2 linked regions of the Homo sapiens genome follow. The protein of the gene in region 1 interacts with the protein of each later gene in a pairwise test. Each region holds a gene or a part of one and is shown on either strand. Other genes may lie near its edges.

Evidence for each region.
Region 2: the proteins of RPRD1A (region 1) and BCAR3 interact in a two-hybrid assay, tested with the Homo sapiens proteins (one large-scale study listed by BioGRID and IntAct).

Annotation. Positions count from the first base shown.
Region 1 is NC_000018.10:36,057,027-36,062,123, forward strand, and holds part of RPRD1A (regulation of nuclear pre-mRNA domain-containing protein 1A), read right to left. Parts: intron 1-5,097. UniProt on the Homo sapiens protein: Interacts with phosphorylated C-terminal heptapeptide repeat domain (CTD) of the largest RNA polymerase II subunit POLR2A, and participates in dephosphorylation of the CTD by RPAP2.
Region 2 is NC_000001.11:93,560,480-93,564,875, reverse strand, and holds the end of BCAR3 (breast cancer anti-estrogen resistance protein 3), read left to right. Parts: intron 1-2,456; coding exon 2,457-2,635; 3' UTR 2,636-3,135; downstream 3,136-4,396. UniProt on the Homo sapiens protein: Acts as an adapter protein downstream of several growth factor receptors to promote cell proliferation, migration, and redistribution of actin fibers.

The sequences.
Region 1 (5,097 bases):
CAACACAGCTAGACCCTGTTTCTACAAAAAAAAAAAAAAAAAAAAAAAAAAAAATCAGCCAGTCATGGTAGCATGCACCTGTGGTCCTAGCTACTCAGGAGGATTGATTGAGCCTGGGAGGTTGGGGCTGCAGTGGGCCTTGATTGGCCACCACACTCCAGCCTGGGCAACAGAGCCAAACCCTGTCTCTCAAAAAACAAGAACAACAACAACAAACATATATATATATCACACACACACACACATACACACACCTTAAGTCACTTATTTTCAGACATAAAACACTAAACGTTTATCTAGCCCAGGCTCCATGGCTCATGCCTGTAATCCCAGCACTTTGGGAGGCCAAAACGGGAGGATCACTTGAGCCCAGGAGTTTGAGACCAGCCTGGGCAATATGGCAAACACGGTCTCTACAAAAAATACAAAAAAAATTATTAGCCAGGCATGGTGGTGTGCACCTATAGTCCCAGTACTCAGGGGGCTGAAGTGGGAGGATCGCTTAAGCCCAGGAGGCAGAGGTTGCTGTGAGTTGAGATCATGCCACTGCACTCTAGCCTGGGTGAGAGAGTAAGACCCTGTCTCAAAAAAATAAATAAATAAATAAAAGTTTATCTAAATGTGTATTATCCTGTCTACCTCCAGAAAGGACTTATGAACAGAAATGTTCAATTTGAAAAGTCAAATAATGCTGTTCTACATAACACCACATTCAAATGATTACAACAGCTAAAACCTATGTCTATATTCTTGGTACAGCTCCTAGTAAATTCTACATATACTTCAAATCTTAAACCAAAGGACCCTTCCCTGATTCCATAAACTAGGATAGGTTCCCAATTACATTTCTCCTTTGTATTACTGTGCAGTTACTAGTTTGGCAAAGTCCATTTGCCTGGCTGATATGTAAGCTCCATGAACACAGCTGTATGTCCCTTTATCTGCTCAATCATCCTTGTTCACTAAGACAGTAAGGAGGTCAACAAGTATTTCTTGAATAAAGAAACCTAATAGAAGAAACTTCTTGTATTTTTTGTGACAGGGTCTCACTCTGTTGCCCAGGCCAGACTGCACTGGTCAGATCATGGCTCATTGCAACCTCTGCCTCCAGACTCAAGCAATCCTCCTACCTCAGCCTCCTGGGTAGCTGGGACTACAGTCATGCACCACCACACCCTGTTAATTTTTGTATTTTTAGTAGAGACAGGGTTTTGCCACGTTACCCAGGCTGGTCTCAAACTCCTGGCCTCAAACAATCCACCCGCCTCAGCCTCCCAAAGTGCTGGCTGGGATTACAGGCATGAGCCACTGCGCCCGGCCAGAAAACCAACAGAAGAAACTTCTACTTGTACATTTTGAATGAAAAATTTATTTTATCAAGAAAAAAAGCCTGTAAAATTACAGATTGTTTGTTTAATGTAGGAACACACTTTTATTTTTATAAGAAATGTAGAGATAATTTGTTGAATCAGATGTAAAAACATCAAATCAACAACTTTTTTTAAAAAACCTTAACGTCACAGGAAAGAGAACCTAAATAAAATTACGTTACGGGCCAAAGGGAAATTTTATAAATTCAGTTTCTGCTTTTCTGGGGAATTAATATTTTAGAGGGATATGTCTGCTTAAGGCAAAGCAATGTATCCTAGTCTCTTGATCTAATTATCAATATTCAGAAAATGGTCCACTTCTCAGCCAACAGTCTGTGGATTCCAGGGGGTCAAGACACTTTCATGGGGTCAATTAAGTCAGAACTACTTTCACAAGAATGCTCATCTATTATTTGCCTTTTTTCACTCTCATTCTCTCACAAGCGTACAGTGTTGTTTTGCAGAGGTCATGTGATACAGCAAGACTGAATGCAGAAAAAGACACGAGAATTCAGCAGGCTTCTATTAAGAGAGATCTTATAAAGATCTGGAAAAATGTAAAATAATCACTCCTTTCCCTGGTATTTTTTAGCAAATATAATTGGTTTTCATTAAAAATGTTATGTTACGATAATTGCATGAGGTAATGGATACTAACTACCCTTATTTGATCATTAGACCAACATATACATCTATCAAAACATCAAACTGTATCCCATAAATACATACAATTACAATGTGTCCATTTGTAATTTTAAAAATCTTTTTTTTTTTGAGATACAGTCTGTCACCCAGGCTTGGAGTAATCTCAGCTCACTGCAACCTCCGCTTCCCGGGTTCAAGTGATTCTTGTGCCTCAGCCTCCCAAGTAGCTGGGATTACAGATGTGCACCACCACGTCTGGCTAATTTTTAAATTTTTAGTACTGACATGGTTTTGCCATGTTGCCCAGGCTGGTCTCAAACTCCTGACCTCATGTGATCTGCCTGCCTCAGTCTCCCAAAGTGCTGGGATTACAGGCATGCACCACCATACCTGGCCTTAATTAAAAATTTTTAAAATATTATTTAACATGAATCGATTTAGTATTATAGTTTTAAAACAAATAATTATTAAATAAATTTTTAAGTGTTTTAATTTCCAATGTAGTAACTAGCGGTAGATATAACCCACATAAACAAAAGATTTAGAATCTTCAATTTTTAAGAGTAAAGAGATCCTCAAACCAGAAAGTAGGAGAAATTCCTGGTCTAGAATAAGAATTTCTTTGGAACAACCAATTTGATTTTTTCAAAGAATACATTTAAAATAAAAGACAGATGGCACCCATAGATGTAAAGGAACTTTATTTACATAGTAATCAATTGCAATAAATGAACTTTACTTGGATCCTGATTCAAACAAATGGCTTCTAAAAAAGTGAAATGATCACGGAAATAAATACTGGCTCAATATTTGATATCTTAAGAAATTAAGTTTTTTTAAGTGTTAAGAAAGACTATAACTATTGAAGCTGCAAGATGACTACATGGGAGTCACCATGTCAGTTTGACAACATTAATCCTTTTAAATATAAGAACTTAGAAGGTGCTAGCATTGTCTACTTACTTTTTCAATTCTAACTCTGAAAGAGAAACAAGTAACAGTATCAGACAATATAAAAGCCACTGAACTGTCAATTTAAAACAGACTCTCTTCATTTTTAGGATTTATATTGCTATATATTTTTAAAGCAAATGAAAAATGTTCTTTTGGCCGGGTGTGGTGGCTCGCGCTTGTAATCCCAGCACTTTGGGAGGCCAAGGTGGGCGGATCACGAGGTCAGGAGATCGAGACCATCCTGACTAACACGGTAAAACCCCCATCTCTACTAAAAATACAAAAAAATTAGCCAGGCATGGTGGCGGGCGCCTATAGTCCCAGCTACTTGGGAGGCTGAGACAGGAGAATGGCATGAACCCGGGAAGGTGGAGGTTGCAGTGAACCGAGATCGCGCCACTGCACTCCAGCCTGGGCAACAAAGCGAGACTCTGTCTCAAAAAAAATAAAAAAGAAAAATGTTCTTTCACTTCTCCATTTTTCTAAAACCAAATTAATAAGAACAGCCAAGAATATACAGTACTTATTTTAGCACATCTTACAAGTTTAAGCCGTATTAGTGAATACGAATGTTAATTCAACGAATATTTAAAAACTTTCATCAAACGCAGTATGCTGGGGAGCTAAAAATTGAAATAGGTAAACAACCTGAAGGAGCCCACTATCTACTTCACAACCAATATGTAACCCCCCAACCTATAATACAATATAAAATGGTAATTAGTTCCCTGAAAGATATCTAACATAGCTTATTGAAAAAGTGATGATTTCAACAAATGATTACAAATAGGAGGAAAATCTAAACCTTAAATAATGTATTATTTTAATTGTTGCCAACCCTAGAAAAAATAAGCCCAGCATGGTAGTGTGCACCTGTAGTCCCAGCTACTCGGGAGGCTGAGGCAGGAAGATCACCTGAGCCCAAGAGTTCAAGAGCAGCCTCGGCAACATAGTGAGACACTGTCTCATAAAAAAAAAAAAATTTAGGAAACAAAGTTAACAGGCATTCAAAGGCTGACCATTTCCAGGTTTGGCTCTTTGCATCCAAAGCTATGTATCACCTCAGCACTTTCACATATTCCCAGTGGCTGCAGGCCCAAGCCCCCCTACCCCCGCAACTTGTTCAAAGAGGTCTTTTATTAAACGTCACCTTGCAGAGATGATTTCCCTCTAACTAAAGATTTCCTCCTTCAAAGAACTAAACACGAAATTTATATTTAAAATTTTTTGTTTATTGGTTGCCCTTACCACAAGACTATAAATTCTGAGGGCAGGGATAAACTGTTTTCCCTTTGTTTTCTTTACCATTGTAATACACAATCAATAAATACAGGGTGAGTAAACATACTTTAAGGGGTTGAGGCACTTACAGTTTTGTTAAGACACCAATATAACATAAAAGAGGCTGGTACAAAGGATACAATCACTAGACTAGGGAAGGCAGTGACCTTCACCAACTACAAAGAATTTCCTCCTATCTATCTTGTTTTGTACAGCTCTTATAGAGATCTTTCAGCGAGTGTGTGTAGAAAAGAGCCCAAATGTTAGTGTTGGTTTCTAAGTTCAGGTATGTTCATGGTCAATATTTCTACAGAAATGAATATAAATTAATGATGTATATTAAGTTTTAAAATTTAGCCTAGTATTGACTGAGACATTTACAGTTTAAAACAGTCACCTTCAAAGGACACTATTAAGAAAGTAAAAAGACAACCCACTGAATGGAAGAAAATATTTGTGGTATGAATCTAATACAATACTTGTACCTAGAATACATTGGGAACACTTACAACTCAATCATAAAAAGACAAATTTTAAAATAGGCAGAATAGACATTTCTCCAGACAACATCCAAATGGCCAATAAGTACATGAAAATAGGCTCAGTGTCATTAGTCATCTGGGAAATGCATATCAAAATCATGAGATACCACTTCATACCCACTAGGACAGCTGTAATCAAAAAGATAACAAATATTAGCAAGGATGTAGAAAAACTGGACCCTCATACACTGCTTGTAGGAATGTATTTTAAAAACATGGCCGGGCGCGGTGGCTCACGCCTGTAATCCCAGCACTTTGGGAGGCCGAGGCGGGTGGATCATGAGGTCAGGAGATCGAGACCATCC
Region 2 (4,396 bases), on another chromosome or scaffold:
TAAGCAGACCACATCCTCTCTTAGATGGAATAGAGTTAAGAAATAGGCCCACACATATGGCTGACAGTTGATTTTCAACAAAGGTGCCAAAATAATTCACTGGATAAAGTATAATCCTGCAAATGGTATCTGCTATTGGATATCCATATGCAAAAAAGTGAATCTCGATCCTTACCTCATACCATACACAATAATCCAAAATGGATCATAGACCCAAAATGTAAGAGCTAAAGTATAACCTTCTGTAAGAAAACATAGGAGAAATTCTTTGTGCCCTTAAGCTAAGTAAAGACTTCTTGGCCAGGCACGGTGGCTCACGCCTGTAATCCCAGCATTTTGGGAGGCTGAGGCAGGCGGATCACCTGAGGTCGGGAGTTCAAGACCAGCCTGACCAACGTGGAGAAACCCCGTCTCTACTAAAAATACAAAATTAGCCGGGCGTGGTGGCGCATGCCTGTAATCTCAGCTACTCGGGAGGCTGAGGCAGGAGAATTGCTTGAACCCAGGAGGCAGAGGTTGCACCATTGCACTTCAGCCTGGGCAACAAAAGCAAAACTCCATCTCAAAAAAAAAAAAAAAAAAAAAGAAAGAAAGAAATTCTTAGGACACAAAAAGCATGAACCACAGCAGAAAACATTGAGTACACATATATCTGATAAAGGACTTACATCTAGGCTATACAAAGAACTCTTACAACTCAGTGAGAAGATAAAATTTAAATAGACAAAAATTTGAATAGACACTACATCAGAGAAGGCATACAAATGACAACTACATGAAAAGATGTTCAAAGCATTCATCATTAGGGAAATGTAAATTTAAACCAACCACAATGAGATACCACCACACTATCTAGAATGGCTACAACTAAAAAGAATGATAGGCCAGGCACGGTGGCTAATGTCTGTAATCCCAGCACTTTGGGAGGTCGAGGCGGGTGGATCACCTGAGGTCAAAAGTTCGAGACCAGCCTGGCCAACATGGCAAAACCCCGTCTCTACTGAAAATACAAAAAATTAGCCAGGCGTGGTAGCACACACCTGTAGTCCCAGCTACTTGGGAGGCTGAGGCAGGAGAATTGCTTGAACCCGAGAGGTAGAGGTTGTGGTGAGCCAGGATCGTGCCACTGCACTCCAGCCTGGGCAACACAGCGAGACTCCTTCTCAAAAAAATAAAAATAAAAAATGATAAAACTAAGGGTTGGCAGCATGTGGAAAAACTGGAGTCTTCATATGTTACTGCTGTGAATATAAAATGATACAGCCATTTTGGAATAGAGTTTAATAGTTTCTTTAAAAGTAAACATATACTGATTGTATGACCCAATAATTCCTTTCCTAGAGAAATGAAAACACATGTCCACACAAGATTTGTACACAAGTGTTCACAACCACTTACTCATAGCAGCCAGAAGCAATCCAAATGTCATCAATTGGTGAATGGATAAACAAAAACAATGGCATGTCCATAAAACTGAATATTGATCAGTAAGAATGATTAGCATGCAACATATGGAATAATCTCAAAAACATCATGCTAAGTGAAAGAAGTCACACATTAAAAAGTTCATAGTGGATGATTCCATTTATCCCATATTTCTAGAAAAGGCAAAACAGTAGCAACAGAAAGCAGATCAGTGGTTGACTGAGGTCTGCAGTAGGAACAGGAATTGACTGCAAAGAGGTACTAAGGTGATGGAAGTGTTCTAAGACTGGTGGTAATGGTTTATGTAAAAACTTACCATCATAAATCAAACTCCACAGCCAAAAACAGGTGAATCATATGACATGTAAACTATACATCAGTAAAGTTGGTAAAAACAAGTAACGAACTCCTAGGTACAATGAACCCTCCTTCCCACAGCACTACTTCCCACAGTGGTTTGTACAAACCAATTTCACTCTATTGTTTTTTAATGAGTTTACCTGTTATTTCTTCTCTGAAGGTGCTTAGGTTCTGCAGGGTGGGGCTCTGCTCTCCCTTATATAGAACAGATCCTATATTTTTCTTTGGGGACATTTTTTAAAGTTCTGAGAGAGAGAAGATGTTCATTTTGATGCTACTTTAAGCAAGCTTTCAGTCTATTTTTTTTTTTTTTTTTTTTTTTGAGATGGAGTCTCGCTTGTCACCCAGGCTGCAGTGCAGTGGCGCAGTCTCGCTCACTGCAAGCTCCACCTCCCGGGTTCACGCCATTCTCCTGCCTCAGCCTCCCGAGTAGCTGGGACTACAGGCGCTCGCCACCACGCCTGGCTAATTTTTTGTATTTTTTTAGTAGAGACGGGATTTCACTGTGTTAGCCAGGATGGTCTCGATCTCCTGATCTTGTGATCCACCCACCTCGGCCTCCCAAAGTGCTGGGATTACAGGCGTGAGCCACCGCGCCTGGTGCTTTCAGTCTATTTTTAACACATCTTAGGCAGAACTGAAGTAACTTTTTGTTTATTTTGTTTCATTAGGTTTTCAACCAGATGAAGAAATGAATGAAATCTGCAAGACTGAATTTCAAATGCGATTGCTATGGGGCAGCAAAGGTGCACAAGTCAATCAGACAGAGAGATATGAGAAATTCAACCAGATTTTAACTGCCCTCTCGCGTAAATTGGAACCTCCTCCTGTAAAGCAGGCAGAGCTTTGATAACTCTCCAGAGAACCTTTAGAATATCTTTTCAAGTTTCCCCAGCTTCATCTTTGGGAAAGCTTACTGTTTTTGATAAAGTAATAATGTGCAAATCTGACAATATACAAGCTTTTAGTATCCACAGGATATTAAACGTGTAAATTGCACAGAGCACACTTATTTATGAATTGTCTAAAGTTACTACTGATTTTAAAATGAATAATTTATTATTAAGGTAACTACTGCTAATGTTGATCAGCAAATTTAAGAGAAGACCTAGCTATGTTGGCTGGTTGCTTTCTATTATCATGGTATTTGACCATTTTAGTTTTAATTCCATGTCAGATAAGTGTAAATAGAAGAGTTTAAAAGCATGAAACATTTCAGAAGGTATCAGTTATATGATATTCTTTAAACAAATATGAAAAATGTAAATACTCATGAATGAAAATACATCTTTTTGTGAAACAGTTGTATCCAGTCTCTTTCATATTAAACAACTCATCTTGGTACAATAACTCTACCTCTTAGCTACCTCAAGCATGCTCTTCCCTAGGTACCGTATCCTGATAGTAAACCAAAATGAATGAAAGTGGTATGAAAAATTTAATGTTCCTGGATTAAAAGGCAGAGTGATTGATAGTGACACAAGGTAGAAACAGCTCGAGAGGACCTGGGTTCAAACTCAAGCTATGGTACTTGCTACCAGCTGGAGTTAGGCCAAGTTTACCTCATTGAATTCCATGTGCAGCATGGACACCCAGTATGATGAACATAACATCATCTCTTCACATATTTCAGAGTAATCAACTGTTTTACCTTTTCCTCTAGCTGATAAGTACAACAATGAGTTTCCTAGGTTGGCTTTCTAGGTTTCTCATTTTGCAAAGGGGATACTTTCTAGTTTCTTTCTAGTTTAGCAATATCCCTCTCAACTTTCCCTATTGTACAAAATTTGGAATATAAGACTTTAACGTATTCTGTTACTCTGCCATCAACTGTCAAACTTCTTTTAATAATCTGTTTTTCCTTCTTCTATTTTAAATAATATTAGGACCATACCAACTTTTATATTCATCTTAAACCGGCTGTGAAAATTTCTTCATGATGTTAAATAGCCTTTAAAAAATATGATTTATTGGTTACAGAAGTTACACTGTAACTTAACTATCACCCTATGATGGTTTTTAAAAATGTGCCACATTTTTTAAAAGGTGCCACGTTGTTATTTTTTGTTGAAAAAAACCAAAGCACATTTCTACTTCTGGCAATATGGTGGTTCAGATGTTCTTAGCCCTCTCACCATAACTAACTAAATCCTGAATACATTTTAATAAACATACCTTTTAGTGTATGATCAACCTTGATAGAAATCCCCAAGGAACAAACTTCTCTCCCCGCCGCACCTGAAAAAGGTACAGCACATTTGAATCAACTCCTCATGAGAACTTAAGAGCCGGGGCAGACCTAGAGGCAAAGAGTAACGTCAGCTCAGTGAATGAGAGTCTGTCTTGGGGGAACTTAAAATGCCTCCATTAAGCAGGAATCCTTAAAGGGTCCCTGTTAATGGAATAGAAAACATTCATCTGCCAGCAAAGGAAGGTTGCCAGGAAACATGACTGTCTTCACATACAGCTCCAGGAAGAAAACAATTATAATGACTATAGTGTTCAGTGAGGATTGGCAACCACACACCTGTCCTCATACAGGTCTGGAGTAAAAATTACAAAATCCAAAACCAAGAAATTGATTTACAGTGGTCCCAGGTTGGTGGTGTCT